Homo sapiens: one gene and its partner. Changing the gene in region 1 together with any one later gene gives a genetic interaction. Each region holds a gene or a part of one and is shown on either strand. Other genes may lie near its edges.

Region 1 (3,655 bases):
GCCAAAGCTGATTAATTTCTCAGTGTTGTCATGATTTCAATGTTTGATTCCATGAGCATTATTGAGTGCCCAGTTTATGCAGTGGTAGGAATACAAAGAACTGGCCTGGCTTCAATCCCTGTGGCATTTATTGTGCGTTCAGAAAGGCAGAAATACAAACCAGCTATAATAGCAGTTTTTAATTCTGTTCTAGAATAGAGATACAAGCAGCATACACCAGAGTTGGTCAGAGTGTGCTGCTTGTCTATGTGTTAACTTCCACTTTTCCTTAAAACTACCCATATCTTATTTTTATCAATTATTGGTAGATAGCATTTTAATCTGTTTTTGTTGTTGGCATTTTCAGGTATAAGAAAAGCACTACCTCCAGCACCAGAAACAAAGAAGGTAGGTGGTCTTTAGCTTTTGATAGTTAATCTTTACATTTTAAGCCTTTAAGTCTTAAGTTTTGGTAGTGTTTGTGACTTACTGAGTATGCGGTTTATTCATTGATGTGACACAATTTTTCCCTAGGATCGTCTCAGAAGCAGATGTGCTGTAGCTTATTTCAATTTTTTGTGGTGTCAAATAATACCAATTTAATTGTATGAGATTTTATCATTGGAGATCCTGTTATCATCTGGCATTTTGCCTCTATTTTCACTTAAAGAGTTGTATTAAGAGGAGTGGGATTTAGATAAATATTTCAGTCTTAAGACCACAGTGTGACAAAGAAGTGACTTCACTGATATAATGATATGCCTTTCAGGAGTGGGGTATAGTGGAGGAAACATGCACTTTGGACTCATTCAAGACTTGATCTGATATGAGTGACTTTGAGTGGGTTAATTAAATCATTGTTACCTTAGTTATGAAACAGGAATTATAATACTCTTCTTCATGAGAGTTTGTTGGATTATAGTAAGTAGACTTGAAGTTTCTAGTTTATTCTGTGGTGATGTATGACTCATTTAGTGTTTTGATTCATGATCAGTTTCATATAGAAGACTAAACTTTCAAATGTTATCTTCCTTGTCTAGCGAAGGCCTCCCCCACCAATTCCACTAGAAGAAGAAGATAATAGTGAAGAAATCGTTGTAGCCATGTATGATTTCCAAGCAGCAGAAGGACATGATCTCAGATTAGAGAGAGGCCAAGAGTATCTCATTTTAGAAAAGAATGATGTTCATTGGTGGAGAGCAAGAGATAAATATGGGTAAGTATTCCCTCTATGTGTGTGATATGCAGTGGGTAGGTGGGAGTCAAGTGTTGAGTGAGAAGTAGATAAGTCGTAACTATCGTGTAATGAGACTAATTTCACCAGCCATAAATGGAAGCACACCTTATTACTTGGTAGTAACACAGTCCTTTCTTAGTGGTCACTCAGTAAATGCGAATTGATCAATCACTTCTTTTCAAAAGTTAGAATACATTGGTCTCTTTCTCATCTGATACATGTTTAATGTGATTATTTTGACCTTGAGGGAAATTAAATTTTATATTTTGTCCCCACCTGCCATAAGTAAGTAATCTTAGATTTTTCTAAGAGTTTATTGTAATTTTTTTCTTAGACTCTCTCTCTCTATATATACGTATGTGTATGTGCGTGTGTGTATGCATACACATACACAGTATAATGAAGCCTCTTCTCACTTCTTTCTCTCTCTCCATGAATATATGGAGGAATAAGAGAATATATATATATGTATATGTGTGTGTCTATATGTGTGTATATGTGTTTGTGTATGTATATATAAAATATATATATGTACATGCAGGAAATTAAACAGCAAGCTTTTTTTTGTACAAGTTAATTTAGGATTTAAAGAAAACAGTCCTTTCAACCCTATCATTGATAAATATATGGGCAGATAGGGGTAACTGTAGGGGATGAGTATCTTGCAGGCTTCATAAGCAAACTCTGTATCCTGTGTTTACCTCTGCAGTGCAATCCCACTTATACTCTGAGTTCCAGTGGATGAGAAGAGGAGAACTTTTTGTCCTGCCAGAGCACACTCTTCTTCCACCTGCCCTCTCACCTCCCAGCCCCAGCCCCAATTTCAAGTCACTGTTCCTCAGTTCACTTCTGGAGAAGCAGTGGAAACCTCTAGTTTAGGCGGGGTCCTTTTCTTCTGCTTGATTCCTAGGCATGGTGCATATATGAGTGCTGTTTTGCTGTGCATTATTAACTTATTTGCAACTCTTAACCTTTTATTCCATGTTTACAGGAAGGTTGTCACTGCTTCTCTTTATCGGATGCTGTATAAGATTGATTTCTATTTTTAATTTTTTTTTGTTGTAGAAATTTTCAAGCATCCAAAAAGTATATAATAGTATAATAGAATCTCTTTTTGCTTGACTTCAAAAATTACCAACATTTTGCCAGTCTAATCCTTCCATTTTTTTCTAGAATATTTAAAAGTAAATTCAAGTCATCATGTTATTTCACTCCTAAATCTAAATTCTAAAGACTTAAAAAAAACACCACCATGTCATTATCATTCTTAATAACAGTATTTTAAATAAGATCGTCTGTAGACTTTCCCTTAATATTTTTGTACCTGGAGGAAGAGTACAAATGAGAATCCACATAACATATATCTAAGTATTTAGGAGTTATAAATCAAGCTAGCAAACTTTATCCTCCAACTTGACAAATACCCTTTCATAGTGACAAGAAAGGCACGGTTTGGATTTAGAGCTCTGTGCCAGAATGTTGCAGTGCATGGAAAGCTGGCTCTGGGGGGGCTACCTCTCTTCTTTCTTCCCTCCTGCCCTGGCTCTATCTCTCATGTACCATATGGATCTTCCAACCTGTACACCCACACTCTTACTGCGTGGCTTGCAAAAGCTACCCCGCATCATGGCCACACCTTCAGCCTCAGTGAAAGGGAATGCACATGGCCAGCCAGCACAATTTGTTTTTTAGAAGATGGACCCAGTAGAAGGCCCATGTAGACCTTGGAAATGAGCAGGGTGTTCTGGGGTCCTAGTTACCCAGAAAGGAGCATGGGAACACAGGTCAGAGGGAACACGCACTTTTGCAGAGCTCTCAAAAGTGTGGGGTTAGAGCAAGAGCTTCTCTGGCCCAGGTCTAAGGATGGAACCAATTATGTAATTCCAGTTTCCCCGATTAGCTCTAATACTTATTTTTACTGTTGGTTTATTCAAATCAGGACCCACACACTGCATTTTGGTTAATATATCTCTTATGTTTCTCTTATTCTACATTTTTGATTTATTGATGAAAGCAGGTCATTTAACACTAAAATGAGCCATAATCTAGATGAAACAGATTGTTTTCTTGTGGTGTCACTTAATATGCCTGTGTTTCTTGTATTTCTTGTGAACTGGCGAGTAGAGCTAGAGGCTTGATCACATTAGAAGGTGATCTCTGGATGTCCTACTTTTAGTAATGCTAAGATTGCTTAGTGGTTCAGGTGTCAGACTTGTTCCTCTGTCATAAAGTTCTTCATTGGTATTTACCCTGATGATTTGGGGGTTCATTAATGATTCTTTCTTAGAGTCATTATTTCATTAGGGGTTACAAAATGGTGATTTCCTAATTTTGTCATTCCATCTGCATTTAGTAGTTCTCTAAAGAAGAACTGCCTCATATACCAGTTCATTTAGTTCATGAAGGAAAGGAAAGATGAAATTTGGATTCTTAAACTTT
Region 2 (3,655 bases), on another chromosome or scaffold:
AGCTACGTGCGCTCCCGGGTAACCCATCACCAGAGCAGCACTTTCCTGTCTCCACCCAATTCTGCTGCCTATAGGGAGTAAGCAATTCAATAGCCAATTCCACCCTCCCATTCCCCCTTCAACACACACACCCAAGTTTCAATTCCAAAGCCCTACACCTCAATGCGGACATGTAACCAACTGATGACTTATCAGAAAAGGCCAATTAAAACGTAATGGAATCTTTCCCTTTCCAGTTCCCAGAAAGCCAGTGTATCTGAAACTCGTGCACTGACAAGGACTGTTTCTGATCAGACTTTTGGTCAGAGTTCTTGTGTCCAACTATGGTTTTCTTTAACATCATCCAGTCTCTGTACCTCACAGACAGTTAAAGTTTGCTTTCTGGATGTCTAAAAATCAACTAGCAAAGTTGTGAAAAGTTTATATTACCCTAAGTTTCTTTTTTTTTTTTCTTTTGAGATGGAGTTTCGCTCTCATTGCCCAGGCTGGAGTGCAGTGGCGTGATCTTGGCTCACTGCAACCTCCGCCTCCACGGTTCGAGTGATTCTCCTGCCTCAGCCTCCCAAGTATGTGGGATTACAGGCACCCGCCACCACACCTGGCTAATTTTTTGTATTTTTAGTAGAGATGGGGTTTCATCACGTTGACCATGCTGGTCTCGAACTCCTGACCCTCAGTTGATCCACCCGCCTCAGTCTCCCAAAGTGCTGAGATCACCACCCCCAGCCCTATTTTTTAAAAGCCTAATATACCTTATAATTAGGTTTCAGTGAATGTTTAAGAAAAAATTAGTATCTGTTCATATGAGGATTAAAGATGGCTTTACAGCAAAACAAATGGTCAAAGAAATGTGAAACCCGTAACACAAACAGGTTAATTCCCAATTTAAGATACTTACACAGTAGGGATATATTCTCCAGGAAATGCATTGGTTGTGTAACTGATCAGTAGGCAAGTTTTACCTACAGCTCTAAAGAGAAAGAGAAAAAAGGTTGCTTAGTCAACATGAATGTAATCTTAGCTTTCACTATTAAGTTAAAATAATTTCTAGAGAAAAAAAATCAAGGCATATACATCACATACTTAGCATTAAAGAAAATGTTTTCTATAACCCTTTATCACCACATACACATTGGTACCCTGAAATTTAAAGTAAACAAACTAGAATTTCTCAGAAAGATAGAGTCAGGAGCCATCACATTCTGTTTAGGTACCCGGTGTTAGCATTAATAGTCAAGAAACAGTTGTCACCTAGCTACAAGACTCAAGAGAAACAAGATTTTAAAACTTCACGTCTCTTCTGTGAACATCTGTAGAGCCTCTCATCAAGAATCTTAAGTTTGATCCTGAAGATATTTTCTTTTTTTCTTTTTTTTCTTTTTTTTTTTTTTTTGAGACCGAGTCTCGTGCTGTCGCCCCAGCTGGAGTGCAGTGCAGAGGCACCATCTTGGCTCACTGCAACCTCTGCCTCCCAGGTTCAAGCGATTCTCCTGCCTCAGCCTCCCAAGTAGCTGGGATTACAGCTGTCCACCACCACGCCTGGATAATTTTTTTGTATTTTTAGTAGAGATGGGTTTTCGCCATGTTGGCCAGGCTGGTCTCGAACTCCTGACCTCAAGTGATCCGCCCACCTGGACCTCCCAAAGTGCTGGGATTACAGGCTGGAGCCACCACACCCAGCCTAAAGGTATTTTAATTAACACTAATATACAAACACAGCCTTCCTCTTTAAGTAACTTATTCTGCTGCCTTAAGTGGGACAGCTCAAAATCCCACCACATCCCTACAGCCTCCCCTATGGCAATCAGCAATGACTGTTCTCTTGAGAGAAAGTGCTTAGTCAATAAACTACCACACGTAACTGCCATCACATTGATTCAGCTGTATTTAAATGCCACCTCCCCCAGCCCCAATCCTCACACAGCACCATAAGTCTATAAGCAGGGACTATCACAATACATCCCAGACATTTAATTAACAGCTCAGAGACGATGGGAGTTAAACTTGCCAAACAGAGAAGTGTGTAGAAATACTTCAGAGAAAGGAGCACCACCTGCACAACTGGCAATGGGTAGAGACTAATCCTAATATTACCAGTGTGCCGCCAGGCAGAAGAGTGGTGGCTGAAAGTCTCCCAACCACCTGGAATGTTTTTCAAGAGGCTATCACCTAATAACTAAGGTCACCACATCATTAGCAAAACATAAAGGTCTCCAATTTTTACAGCATTGACAAGGCAAGCTTAAGGGCTTACATGAGAATTCAAGTCTCTGGCATCCTGAGGGTTCAGTTAGCCAAGTGCTCTCCTTAATGAGCCCTTCTCTCTGCTGTGCTGTCAGTTTACCAAGGTCACAATGACACATCAGCATCATAATTTTAAGATTTTTGTCGTTCAATCTCAACTACTATAAATTAGAATTCACCATAAAGTTAAGCGCTTTTCCATTTTCCCTCACACTCAAGGCAGATTACAGGCCCAGCCAGTCTTGCCAATATTCATTCACTCATGACATTATTGAGGGCTTAACAAAAGTTGGAACTCCCCATTCCAAAGACTTTAGAGAGTCAAACATTACATCACCAGGAAGTAGCTTCCAACTCCTAAAGGCTTTCTAAACAGAAATGACTCATTGGACATACATTTCGTTAAAAGCTTAGAATGTGAAAATAAACCTGTATGAGCAGGAGCCTAAGCTTTGGAGTCAGAAGCCCAGATTTGAGACCCAGGGCCAATTCTAGCACGTACTGGCTGTATTTTTTGGCAAGTTTCAACTTCCTCATGCCTTTTTTTTTCACCTGCAAAATTAATGCAGAACTACCAGCTCCATCCCCAAACTACTGTGAGCATTAATTCAATTTCAATTTATATCAACCGTGTGCTACACCAGAAGCACACTAGGTGCTAAAGATGTATCAATGAACAAGACCTCATGAAGTAAGTGCAGTTGTTAAATTTAAAAATTAAGAATGCAATCATCACATGAAATTATGCGTGTGATAACTGTCATTATTAAAGCAGCTCTGGAAATGTACAGCAAAAGAGCTAACATTTCTAGAGCTGAAAAAAATATTTTTAGGCCAGGCATGGTGGCTCATGCCTGTAATCCTAGCACTTTGGGAGGCTGAGGTGGGTGGATCGCTTGAGCCCAGGAGTTCAAGACCAGCTGGGCCAACATGGAGAAACCCGTTCTCTACTAAAAATACAAAAATTAGGTGGGTGTGGCGGTGTGCAGCAGTAGTCTCAGCTACTTGGGGGGCTGAGGCACGAGGATCACTTGAACCCAGGAGGGAGGTCAAGGCTGCAGTGAAACAAGATTGCACCAGTGCATCCAGTCTGAGGGACAAAGTGAGACCCTGTCTCAAAAAAATAAATTTTTTTAAATTAAAAAATAAAAGCCTGGTGCAGTGGCTTAGGCCTGTAATCCCAGCACAGGAGGCTATAATCCCAGCACAGGGGCCTGAGGTGGGAGGATCGCTGAGCCCAGGAGTTCAAGACCAGCCTGGGCAACATAGGGAGACCTTGTTTCCACAAAAAATTCAAAAATAAGTGGTGGCTCTTGCCTGTAGTCCCAGCTACTCAGGAGGCTGAAGCAAGAGGATCCCTTCAGCCCAGGAATTCAGGGCAGCAGTGAGCTGTGATCACACCACTCCACCC

The links. A genetic interaction does not mean that the proteins touch.
Region 2: of TEC (region 1) and RAC1, changing one enhances a phenotype caused by changing the other (phenotypic enhancement), as found in Homo sapiens cells (one study listed by BioGRID).

What each region holds. Positions count from the first base shown.
Region 1 is NC_000004.12:48,165,318-48,168,972, reverse strand, and holds part of TEC (tyrosine-protein kinase Tec), read left to right. Parts: intron 1-346; coding exon 347-387; intron 388-1,019; coding exon 1,020-1,195; intron 1,196-3,655.
Region 2 is NC_000007.14:6,384,527-6,388,181, reverse strand, and holds part of RAC1 (ras-related C3 botulinum toxin substrate 1), read right to left. Parts: intron 971-3,655; coding exon 899-970; intron 1-898. UniProt on the Homo sapiens protein: Plasma membrane-associated small GTPase which cycles between active GTP-bound and inactive GDP-bound states.